Homo sapiens: one gene and its partners. The protein of the gene in region 2 purifies or fractionates together with the protein of the main gene of each other region. This does not show direct contact. Each region holds a gene or a part of one and is shown on either strand. Other genes may lie near its edges.

Region 1 (3,654 bases), on a different chromosome or scaffold from region 2:
GCATCAGCACTGCTGCTGGAAGACGGTGAAGCCCCAGCCAGCACCAAGGAGGAGCCCTTGGAGGAGGAAGCAACGACCCAGAGCCGGGCTGGAAGGGAAGAAGAGGAGAAGGAGCAGGAGGAGGAGGGAGATGTGTCTACCCTGGAGCAGGGAGAGGGCAGGCTGCAGCTGCGGGCCTCGGTGAAGAGAAAAAGCAGGCCCTGCTCCTTGCCTGTGTCCGAGCTGGAGACGGTGATCGCGTCAGCCTGCGGGGACCCCGAGACCCCGCGGACACACTACATCCGCATCCACACCCTGCTGCACAGCATGCCCTCCGCCCAGGGCGGCAGCGCGGCAGAGGAGGAGGACGGCGCGGAGGAGGAGTCCACCCTCAAGGACTCCTCGGAGAAGGATGGGCTCAGCGAGGTGGACACGGTGGCCGCTGACCCGTCTGCCCTGGAAGAGGACAGAGAAGAGCCCGAGGGGGCTACTCCAGGCACGGCGCACCCTGGCCACTCCGGGGGCCACTTCCCCAGCCTGGCCAATGGCGCGGCCCAGGATGGCGACACGCACCCCAGCACCGGGAGCGAGAGCGACTCCAGCCCCAGGCAAGGCGGGGACCACAGTTGCGAGGGCTGTGACGCGTCCTGCTGCAGCCCCTCGTGCTACAGCTCCTCGTGCTACAGCACGTCCTGCTACAGCAGCTCGTGCTACAGCGCCTCGTGCTACAGCCCCTCCTGCTACAACGGCAACAGGTTCGCCAGCCACACGCGCTTCTCCTCCGTGGACAGCGCCAAGATCTCCGAGAGCACGGTCTTCTCCTCGCAAGACGACGAGGAGGAGGAGAACAGCGCGTTCGAGTCGGTACCCGACTCCATGCAGAGCCCTGAGCTGGACCCGGAGTCCACGAACGGCGCTGGGCCGTGGCAAGACGAGCTGGCCGCCCCTAGCGGGCACGTGGAAAGAAGCCCGGAAGGTCTGGAATCCCCCGTGGCAGGTCCAAGCAATCGGAGAGAAGGTTAGACCTCAAACCTGATCAGAGTGAGAATAGGACCATCAGGGGGACAAAGGTGTCACCAACAGTTTAAAAACAAGAAGGGCGGGGGATCGGTGTCAAACGGGGTTGCTGGGGCAATGTATGCCTGTCTTGTATATACATGTGTGCATGTGTATCTGTGTATGAGCATAGATGACTGTGAGTAGCTGACACCCCACAATGTCTCAGATACACACCAGGAATTACGACTGGTTGGATGTGAGCGTGCACTTGTATGTGTGCTTCTATGTTTGTTTTAACTAATCACCAGAACTGGTTAGTGTACATGTTATCCTAGTCTTAACAGCAGCCAGAGCCCCAAGACTAGTATCAAATGATATACATGGGAAAAATCTATCTACATTAAATGGATAATGTGTAAATATCTGCTGACTTTCAAAGCACATGGAAGATTAGCAATAGATGTTAATATTAGTTGAAGAACAGATTTTACCTCTGTTTTAGAATTCAACTAGCCCATGTACGTACATATAGATATGTCTAGCCTACATATATTTGTCATTATTTATGTCCACTCAATTCTTGTTATTACTGTTGGTTTTGTTTTGTTGTTGTTGTTGTTGTTGTTGGCTATTTTGGCTAATGGAAGGGAAAAATAACATGATTGTGTATAAATGACTTTGTTTCCAATAAGAATCAAATCCAAAAGCTGCCACCATTAGTTTTAAAACGTATTCTGTGTTTTAACCAAAGATGTTCTTTCTTAGTCATGCCTGTGGAATTATATGTGAAATTAATTTGCATTTCCTTATCCAGGAGTGGAAACTGTCTTCCAGTCAAGTGACAGTGGTATGACTGGGAAAAAAAATTGAAAAGTCACATAATAATATGAAATAATTCAGTTGTTTTAAAAGAGAAAAACATAGCCTCTGCTATTTTGCTGTTCTGCTGTTGAAATTAGCCTCCAACAAAAGGCGGGGATATTTTCTCTAGATTGTAAGCTCATCAAGGGCCAGAGTTGTGTTTCTTTATGTTTGAATTCTTAGCACCTAAACAAACCCCTGGTGCCTACAAATTTTTTTTTTAACAGGAGCTAAAGTGAGCATTAAAAAAAATAATTTTAAGTATTCAATAATGCCCGCTTCTACATTTCAGAAAAAGAGTGAGAGAAGGTGGCACATGCAATAATGAGAAACGCAAGGAAATTGGTAGAGAAAAAGAAACACAGGCAGAAAGGTAAAACAGACAGCATGGAAAGGTACCCACAAGGAGCGGGATGGAAAATCCCTCCTGTGAGTAGAAGGGAATGGGAAATGCCTTTCTTTCACAAGGATGTTTCGAGGACTTCCTTTATTCTAGGCCAGATGTAATGCACTGGGCGCAGGAAGATGGAGTGGCATCAGGTGATGTATGGACATTACTCGATAATTACAGCATAATTAAAATAATACAACAAAAGGAGATTGGGGGATTCCCACATAAAAGGCACACATAGGAGCTGGCAGGGATGTTGGGTTACAGAGGTCTGTAGATTTTTCCTGTGAAGAGCCAGATAGTAAATACTTTAGGCTTTGTGGGTCAAGAGGTAAAAAGCTAAATAACTGTTCTCACTAAAAAGCTTTTTTTTTTTGTATTAAAAAGTGTACTGACACTTTTCTTAGCTCAGAGCCATACAACCCTGTTTTAGTGCACAGTTTTTTGGCCCCCATGTTGGGAGATAATCTACACATGGTCAATTGAAACTTGGCTCAATGTAAATTTATATAAGATCATGTTTTACAAACAAAAAAGTCACATCCTTGCCCTTTAGAGGCCAACAGTCTAGCAGGTGGAAGAGCAGGAAGTGTTTCAGGGTCACAGTGGACATCTCTGAATTGGCACTGGCAGTTTCTAAAGAAATATCTAAGTTCCTGAACTCTGCAGAGTGTAAACTCAGAAAAGGTTAAGAAGCACCTACATGCTTCACTATGGCGATCACAAGGGGAAATAAAAAGATTCCCGAGGGGTCTCTTGATCTGCTGAAGGCCATGCACACGCTGGCATGTGACTTCTTCCCAGCCATCCTTCCCCGCCTCAGCAGTGAGTCCCCAGGCTAACCGTGTCTGCATTGTGGGACTGTCCTTCACTTGCCACCAGGCTTCACAACAGCAGATGCTTCAAGAAAGCAGGGCTTTAACATGACCTGCCTGATACGTGATTGTGTGGGTGACCTCTGCTTCCATAAAAATCCCTATTGCTCCTTCGCCTTGACTTCTAAGATTGCAAATTCCTTTACTGTAGAAACTGCATTAGACGGCTGGGTGTGTGGGCTCACGCCTGTAATCCCAGCACTTTGGGAGGCCGAGGTGGGTGGATTGCCTGAGGTCAGGAGTTCAAGACCAGCCTGGCCAACAGGGTGAAACCCTGTCTCTACTAAAAAAAAAAAAATACAAAATATTAGCTGGGCACGGTGGCGGGCACCTGTAATCTCAGCTACTTGGGAGGCTGAGGCAGGAGAATCACTTGAACCCAGGAGGCAGAGGTTGCAGTGAGCTGAGATCGTGCCATTGCACTCCCAACTGGGCAACAAGAGCAGAACTCTGTCTCAAAAAAAAAGAGAGAGAGAAAAAAAAACTGCATTAGATTAACCCAGGTGGATTTGTTGTCCACGTGCCCACATAGATAAGGCTGCAACAATT
Region 2 (3,654 bases):
TCAAGAAAGGACCCAAAGCAGCAAATCAGGCTGAAAATGTGAACAGGATCAAAAAAGAGAAACGTCCTGATTGTAGTCATCCTGGTTGCAACTTTGCTCTTTCAGGCTTACTACAAGTTTTCAAATTCTTAATTTTTTTTCTATTCTTAAAATTCCTTTATCCTGTGGAATTTTCTCCTCCCCAGTTCATTGACTCCTCATTTCCTAGCTGTCTCTATCATTTTCTCTCAAAAATGTTAATTCTAGAACCTGACTCCCTGAGTTCAGATTCTGTCTCCAATCCCTAACAGCTGAATGGTAATGTAATATAAACAGCAGTTTATTAAACACTCTAGTCAACATTAGTTGCTGGGGGTCAGAAAAGGGAATTTGGTTAGAGTCAGAAGTTGACCTAGCAAGTTATTTCCAAACTATTGTTTTCCTTTGTATGCAAAACTGAGATGAAGATAATACCTGCCTCAGAGGGTTGTGGTGAGCATAAAAAAATGTCCCCCATTTAGCAAAGAGCCTGGCACATATAGACATTCAACAAACCTAAGCTATCATTTGTATCATTTGTACTTATCTTGACTACTTCAGGAGTTCCAGATCCACTGAGACTAGCATGTAAAAGCATTTTGAAAAAATGATACAAATGTAAACTATCATGATTGTCTTCTCTTTGCAAAATGAGTTGGTGCCTCAAAAGCTTCAAAAGTTTCATAGCTTTGTACCCTGGTGGACTCATTCACAGCTTGCCAGGCTCTGTGAAAGAAGGGAAGGAGACCTGTCACATGGGTAGAAAGGAAACTTCAGATGAGATATCAGAGCTCATGGGAAGGAGAGAAGGGGAAGGGGATTCTCTGATTCCCGCCATCAGGTACTTTCCAAGGCCAGGCTGCTGTGCTGAGTGGGGACTACCATCCTACACTAAAACAGAAGGAAACACACCAACCAGGGCAGAGTATCTTTACAACTAAATGTCATCTGTTCCTAAATACATGCACATCTTTGCACATTTTTTTATTCCTCATTTCCTGTGTAGTATTAGATTTGGCAAGAAGGAGTTTTAGTTTGTAGAAGATACTCACACAGTATAGGAATACAGGTATATATTTTAAAATATTTTTAAAATTAAGAACTATTTTGAAGGACTAGATGGCACTTCCCCTCCTTTCCTATGAACAGGCCTGCTTGGAAGGGATGGTAGGCAGGAGGGTGAAGGCAGGTCTTTGCCGGCAAGGGGCAGTGGCCTGGGACTGACAGGAATTGATTCCTGAGTGTTTTTCAGGTATACAAGCACCCTGACTCCATGTGGCAGGTTAACAAAATGCACACAGGTTCAATGCTATCAGAGTTTATGGCTGAGCAGGCTATCTCACCAAGCATATTTACCATCAGTGCCTGTTACATTTCCTCAGATAACAGTGCAAATATGAGCGGAATCAAGGAGAAGAGGGACTAGCTATGAACAAGAAGGAGCAAGACAAGAAGTGACTAGCTATGGACAAGAAGAGACAAAGACAAGAGGGAGTGGTCACGAACAAGAAGGAAAGGATAGGGAGAGCAGAGAGAGGAGACCAGGAAAGCAGATGGGTGGGGAGCGGAATGATGTCTAGGTACTGTGTGTTTACCCAAGGTCTGGCATGCAACACTTAACAGTGCAGCACCCCGAGAAGGAAAGTGCTATGTGCTGAGCACTTACTATGTTGTTTGACACGGTATTGGGTGTTTTATTATACATTATCTCATTTAACCTTTGCAAGAAACTGATGAGATAAGCTTTACTTTCTCTCAATTTCATTGATGAGGAAAATTCTGAGAGATTAAGTAATCTGCTTAAGGCCACACAGCTAGAAAGTAGCAAAGCTGGATTTAAGCTTAGACCTCCACTACACTACCATGTCTTCTGGATAAGTTTTCTAAATGGTTGAGATTTAACCCTTTGAGGAATATTCACGCACTTAAGGGACATTCACAAATTTATTTTAATCATTTTGTACAGAAGCTCTTCTTCCTTTTTGTTTGTTAATACAAAATAAATAAGTGAGAAACTTCAAACAGTGGAGGGGGTATCAAGTAAAAAGTTCCTCCTTGCTCACCATGAATTCCACTTTCCAGAGGTACTGCTGTTGACAATTTGGTCTACATCCCTTCACATCTTTTCCTATGTTGTTTTTTTTAAATTAATCATATTATGTACATTGATTTGTGACTTTTTCTTCAAACTAATGATATATTGTATATCAGTATATGCAGATCTATTTTTTTTTAGTAACTGCATGAACATTTCACTCCATCAATGAGCCACTTTTATTTACACATTTTCCAAATTATGGACATTTAGGTTGTTTCTGACTTTTAAGTATTATAAGCAATGCTGGCATTAATTACTGAAATGAATATGATTATATAAGTACGTCTTCACATGCGTTCTTTTATTCCAGTAGAATATATATCTCAAAGTGAGTTAAAGGGAATAAACCTTTTCTATTCGAATAGATACTTCAGGAAAGAAATGTATATTCCCATAAATAGCCAGTGACAGTCCCATGTTTCACCACAACCTATTCAAAAGAGGAAAATATCAATCTTTAAATTTTTTTTTGATAAACTACTAAGTGAAATAAATAGCCACTCAGGTGGTTTGAACTTAACATCCTTTTGGTTACCGGGGGAGAGGCCAAGACCTGGTTGAGGGGCAGATGCTTGGGGTTTCCCAAAGTCATTCACCCAGGTTAGTGACTCATGTCTCCACACACTAATCTCAGAGCACATGCAAATTTAGGCATGACCAGAACACACACATTCATTCATTTATTGAGTACACACTCTGAGCCAGTCATTAGTAGAAAATAAGAGATACAGGTCCCTGCACTCTTGGAACTTGTGCTCCTGGTAGGAGAGTCAATGATAAACAAGTAAACACACAGACAAAGTAGTTCCTGTCATGGATGAGTTTTAAAGCATTGATCAGAAACTACGAGAGCATTGAATATTAAATCTTACTCCTGTACAATAAGGGACTAAAACAGACACATGTATCCAAATGCTCCTGATAGTTCTTCTTGGTTGTTTCAAGTTCTAAATCAAGCCCAAAATCTAAATCATCATCCTTCCATACAAACTTGGGCCTCTCCCACATTTCCCATCTCAGTGAATGGAAAAGACCAAAAACTAGGAAGGAATCATCCTGGTATCTTTTTTTCCTTTGCTCTTCATATACAGTCTGACATGGTTTGGCTGTGTCCCCACCCAAATCTCATCTTGAATTGTAGTTCCCATAATCCATATGTGTTGTTGGAGGGACCAGGTGGAGATAATTGAATCTTGGGGTGGTTTCCCCATTCTATTTTCATGATAGTGAGTTCTCACAAGATCCAGTGGTTTTATAAGGAGCTTCCCCCTTCACTGGGCAATCATTTCTCCTGCCACCATGTGAAGAAGGACATGTTTGCTTCCCCTTCTGCCATGATTATAAGTTTCCTGAGGCCTCCCCAGCCCTGCAGAACTGTAAGTGAATTAAACCTCTTTCCTTTATAAATTATGCAATCTCAGGCAGTTCTTTATAGCAGCATGAGAACGGACTAATACACAGTCTACAATCAGATTGGGCTTATTTATCGCCGAAATATTTCCAGAATCTCTCTCTCTCTCCAATTTCACTACTATCCT
Region 3 (3,654 bases), on a different chromosome or scaffold from region 2:
TTCTGTGGATTTGATATTTTGCAAGGAAAATTGCATTCTTCCATGTCTACAACAGAAATGGTATGTTCCTTGGCATGACTTGGAAAATGGATAAATTGTTGCCTTTTTGCCTTTCTAGTATGAGAATTTGAATCTTCTATTCCTCAAACTGATTGTGATGTGGATCTGCCTCTTACCCAAGATAAAAAGCAAAATACGTTCCAATGACCAAAGATAACTGTGCCATGGGGGCTCTACTTTTCACATATTTGAAAGGAAATTATGTATAATACTAGACAATAAGTCACTTTTAGAGATAAAGTGCAAATTTGGGTCTCAGTTCTTTTTTTTTTTTTTTGAGACGGAGTCTAGCTCTGTCACCCGGACTGGAGTCCAGTAGCGCGATCTTGGCTCACTGCAACCTCCACCTCCCAGGTTCATGCCATTCTCCTGCCTCAGCCTCCTGAGTACCTGGGACTACAGGCGCCCGCCACCATGCCCAGTTAATTTTTTGTAATTTTTAGTAGAGACGGGGTTTCACCGTGTTAGCCAGGATGGTCTCAATCTCCTGACCTCATGATCCGCCCACCTCGGCCTCCCAAAGTGCTGGGATTACAGGCGTGAGCCATCTCGCTAGGCCAAGGGTCTCAGTTCTTAAGTTAATGCCTTTGTGTCCTAGAACAGAGTTCAGCTGAACCAACCTCTTCAGTCGATTCCAGCCTGTGAGGTTTCAGTTCTGAAATAAACAAGAGCTGAATATAGAATGGTATGGTAGACTTTGGAGACTTAGAAGGGGGTGATGGGAGGGGATGAGGGATAAAAAAACTGCATATTGGATACAATATATACTATTCTCGTGAGGTATAAACTAAAATCTCAGACTTCACCACTATACAATTCATTCATGTCACCAAAAACTATTTGTACCCCCCAAAGCTGTTAAAACTATATATATATATACTTTTTTTTTTGAGACGGAGTCTTGTTCTGTTGCCCAGGCTGGAGTGCAGTGGTGTGATCTCGGCTCACTGCAACCTCCACCTCCCAGGTTCAAGCGATTCTCCTGCCTCAGCCTCCCGGGACTACAGGCGCCCACCACCATGCCTGGCTGTTTTTTTGTATTTTTAGTAGAGACGGGGTTTCACAGTGTTAGCCAAGGCAGTCTCAATCTCCTGACCTTGTGATCCACCCACCTCGGCCTCCCAAAGTGCTGGGATTACAGGCGTGAGCCACCGCATCCGGCCTAAAATATATACTTTGAAAAAATAAAACAAAACAAGAGCTAAAGCTAAGAGGATGTACCTTGGATTTTATCATGTTTCCTGATGGGTGGATGGGTTTTCATTCTATTTTTCACTTATTCGTATAATTGAGCACCTCTCCCTCTCCCTCTCCTCCCTCTCCTCCTCCTCCTCCCTCTCCTCTCTCTCCTCTCTCTCTCTCTCTTTCTCTCTCTCTCTCTCTCTCAGAAAAAGCAGCTCTGGAGGAGGGGTGACTGCCCGAGTCAGGTGTTAGGAGACCCGAGCAGGGCTGGATTCTCATCCTATGCTGTGTGCTTTCTACGACTTAGAGCAAAGCTCAGTAAACTGTTTCTACAGACAGACAGATAGTAAATTTTTCAGTTTTATGGGCCATACAGTCTCTATCATAACTACAAAACTTTGACAGTGCAGCAGAGAATCAGCCAAAGGCAGTATGTGAAAAAATGAATGTGACCAAATGCCAATTAAAGCTTCATTCGTGAAGAGTAAAACTTAAAATGGATCACGAAACTTTGTTCTTTAGTTTTTTTCAACTATTTAAAAATGTAAAAATGGTTATTCTTTGTTCACAGGCTGTACACATTAGGCCACAGGCTGGACTCAGCCCGGGGCTCATAGCTTATAGACCATTGACTAGGGGACTTAAAGGACAGTTTTGACATAGTCTCTATTGTTGTCTTACACTCTCAACTCTGAGTTCACATCGTATCATCACTATACTTACCCTCTACTGCCTCTTTTTTAAATCTCATTTTCTATCATAAAAAGTAAGACATAGTAAAAAGAGTGAAATATCCTTCTCTTCCCACCCATATTTTACCCTATATTCTCTTTCAACAATCTAGTGGGTCTTCGTCATGCAATTAGTGCTGAAAAGCTCAGAACTTGAGATACAAATCTACTTCAGTCTCACAGTTTCATGATCTCCACTCCGGCTGCTCTGCCACAGTGAAATAGGACTGGATGCTCAATCTTAACTTCTGTCCCCAAACCAAGTGCTTAAGATATCACGTTTTACCTTTCTATAGATGCCAAAAATGGTTCCAACGGACACAAGGCAATCGATGTTGGAAGATCCATCAAGGGGATCAAAACAGACCACATATTTACCCTGAGCACAGAAAAAAGAAATACAACCTTAAAATGTTATAGCAAGATACACTAAAGGAGTATACATTAGGGGCTAAGAATGGGAATTTAGAAGAAAGTTCAAAAAATGTGGGTCTTATTTATTTGTACTGTCATGGAAGGCATGAGATGGCATACAGAATGCACAGATACACACACATACACACAAGACCATTAAACAGAGAAAATACCACTTAAGAGGTGCAGATGAAGGTAATGGAATACAGATAAGTCATGATTTCCTATATTGTTGATATAATCAAATCATAATTTTGCATTGAGTTTCCTGGCAGCCAAAGGAAAAAGAAGGTTAGTCACTCATTTTCCTTTATTTGTAAGGAAAAAAATAATTCCTTAGGTGAAGCAGAGACTTTGCTAGGGTTGAGATCTATAAGAAACTTCTCATGGAGGTCTTACAGATGCCCCTTGAGGTTGGGGTGCATAGAGTTTTCAAAAATATCCTGGCTGGGCACGGTGGCTCATGCCTAATCCTAGCACTTTGGGAGGCTAAGACAGGAGGATTGCTTGAGCCCAGGAGTTTGAGACCAGCCTGGGCAGCATAGAGAGACTCCTTCTGTAAAAAAAAAAAAAAAAAAAAAAAAAAAAAAAAAAATTCAATTAGCTGGGCATGATGCTGCACATCTGTAGTCCCAGCTACTCAGGAGGCTGAGACAGGAGGTATCACTTGAGCCAGGAGTTCGAGGCTGCAGTGAGCCATGACTGTGCACTCCAGTCTGGGTGACAGAATGAGGCCCTGTCTCTAAAAACAAAACTAAACAAAACAAATTTCTAGCGTAATTCCCAAAGTAGATAACTTTCAGTGGTAGTGGGAATACCGCAGATTCCTGTTTTGAGTGGGATTTTCAGTGGTGTGCAGGAGCTGGCTGGTATCGGCTCTCAGGAGCTAACGGTGCACATCTCTTCCCAACTCTGCCTTCAGTGATATCACATTGGTAGCTTAAAATCAACGATGGGAGAGTATTCACACCATTGACAGAGGCAAGTGGACATATCAGAGACTTGTTTGTTTGCTTTGAGACCCAGTTTACCAGCACATCACTGGGAGTTTTCCATCTCCAAATTAGCCACTTTACAATGTCGTTTTTAAATGTCTGTAGCAGATTAACATGATTCCCTGCCCTCTTGCTCTTCACAGACCACCCTCACTAATGCAGGAGGAACTGGAAACTGGAACACAGGAAGCTGCCTATCATGAAGGCCCATGATAGACAAGAGAAGTCCGGCGTGAGTGATGGAGAATATTAAACAACAAATCTAAGCCATA

Evidence for each region.
Region 1: the proteins of ILDR1 (region 2) and HECW1 purify together in Homo sapiens (affinity purification with mass spectrometry; one large-scale study listed by BioGRID and IntAct). This does not show direct contact.
Region 3: the proteins of ILDR1 (region 2) and FBP1 purify together in Homo sapiens (affinity purification with mass spectrometry; one large-scale study listed by BioGRID and IntAct). This does not show direct contact.

The regions. Positions count from the first base shown.
Region 1 is NC_000007.14:43,444,574-43,448,227, forward strand, and holds part of HECW1 (E3 ubiquitin-protein ligase HECW1), read left to right. Parts: coding exon 1-997; intron 998-3,654. UniProt on the Homo sapiens protein: E3 ubiquitin-protein ligase that mediates ubiquitination and subsequent degradation of DVL1. Also targets the mutant SOD1 protein involved in familial amyotrophic lateral sclerosis (FALS).
Region 2 is NC_000003.12:122,012,190-122,015,843, forward strand, and holds part of ILDR1 (immunoglobulin-like domain-containing receptor 1 isoform 1 precursor), read right to left. Parts: intron 1-3,654. UniProt on the Homo sapiens protein: Maintains epithelial barrier function by recruiting MARVELD2/tricellulin to tricellular tight junctions (tTJs).
Region 3 is NC_000009.12:94,615,509-94,619,162, forward strand, and holds part of FBP1 (fructose-1,6-bisphosphatase 1), read right to left. Parts: intron 2,353-3,654; coding exon 2,260-2,352; intron 1-2,259. UniProt on the Homo sapiens protein: Catalyzes the hydrolysis of fructose 1,6-bisphosphate to fructose 6-phosphate in the presence of divalent cations, acting as a rate-limiting enzyme in gluconeogenesis. Plays a role in regulating glucose sensing and insulin secretion of pancreatic beta-cells.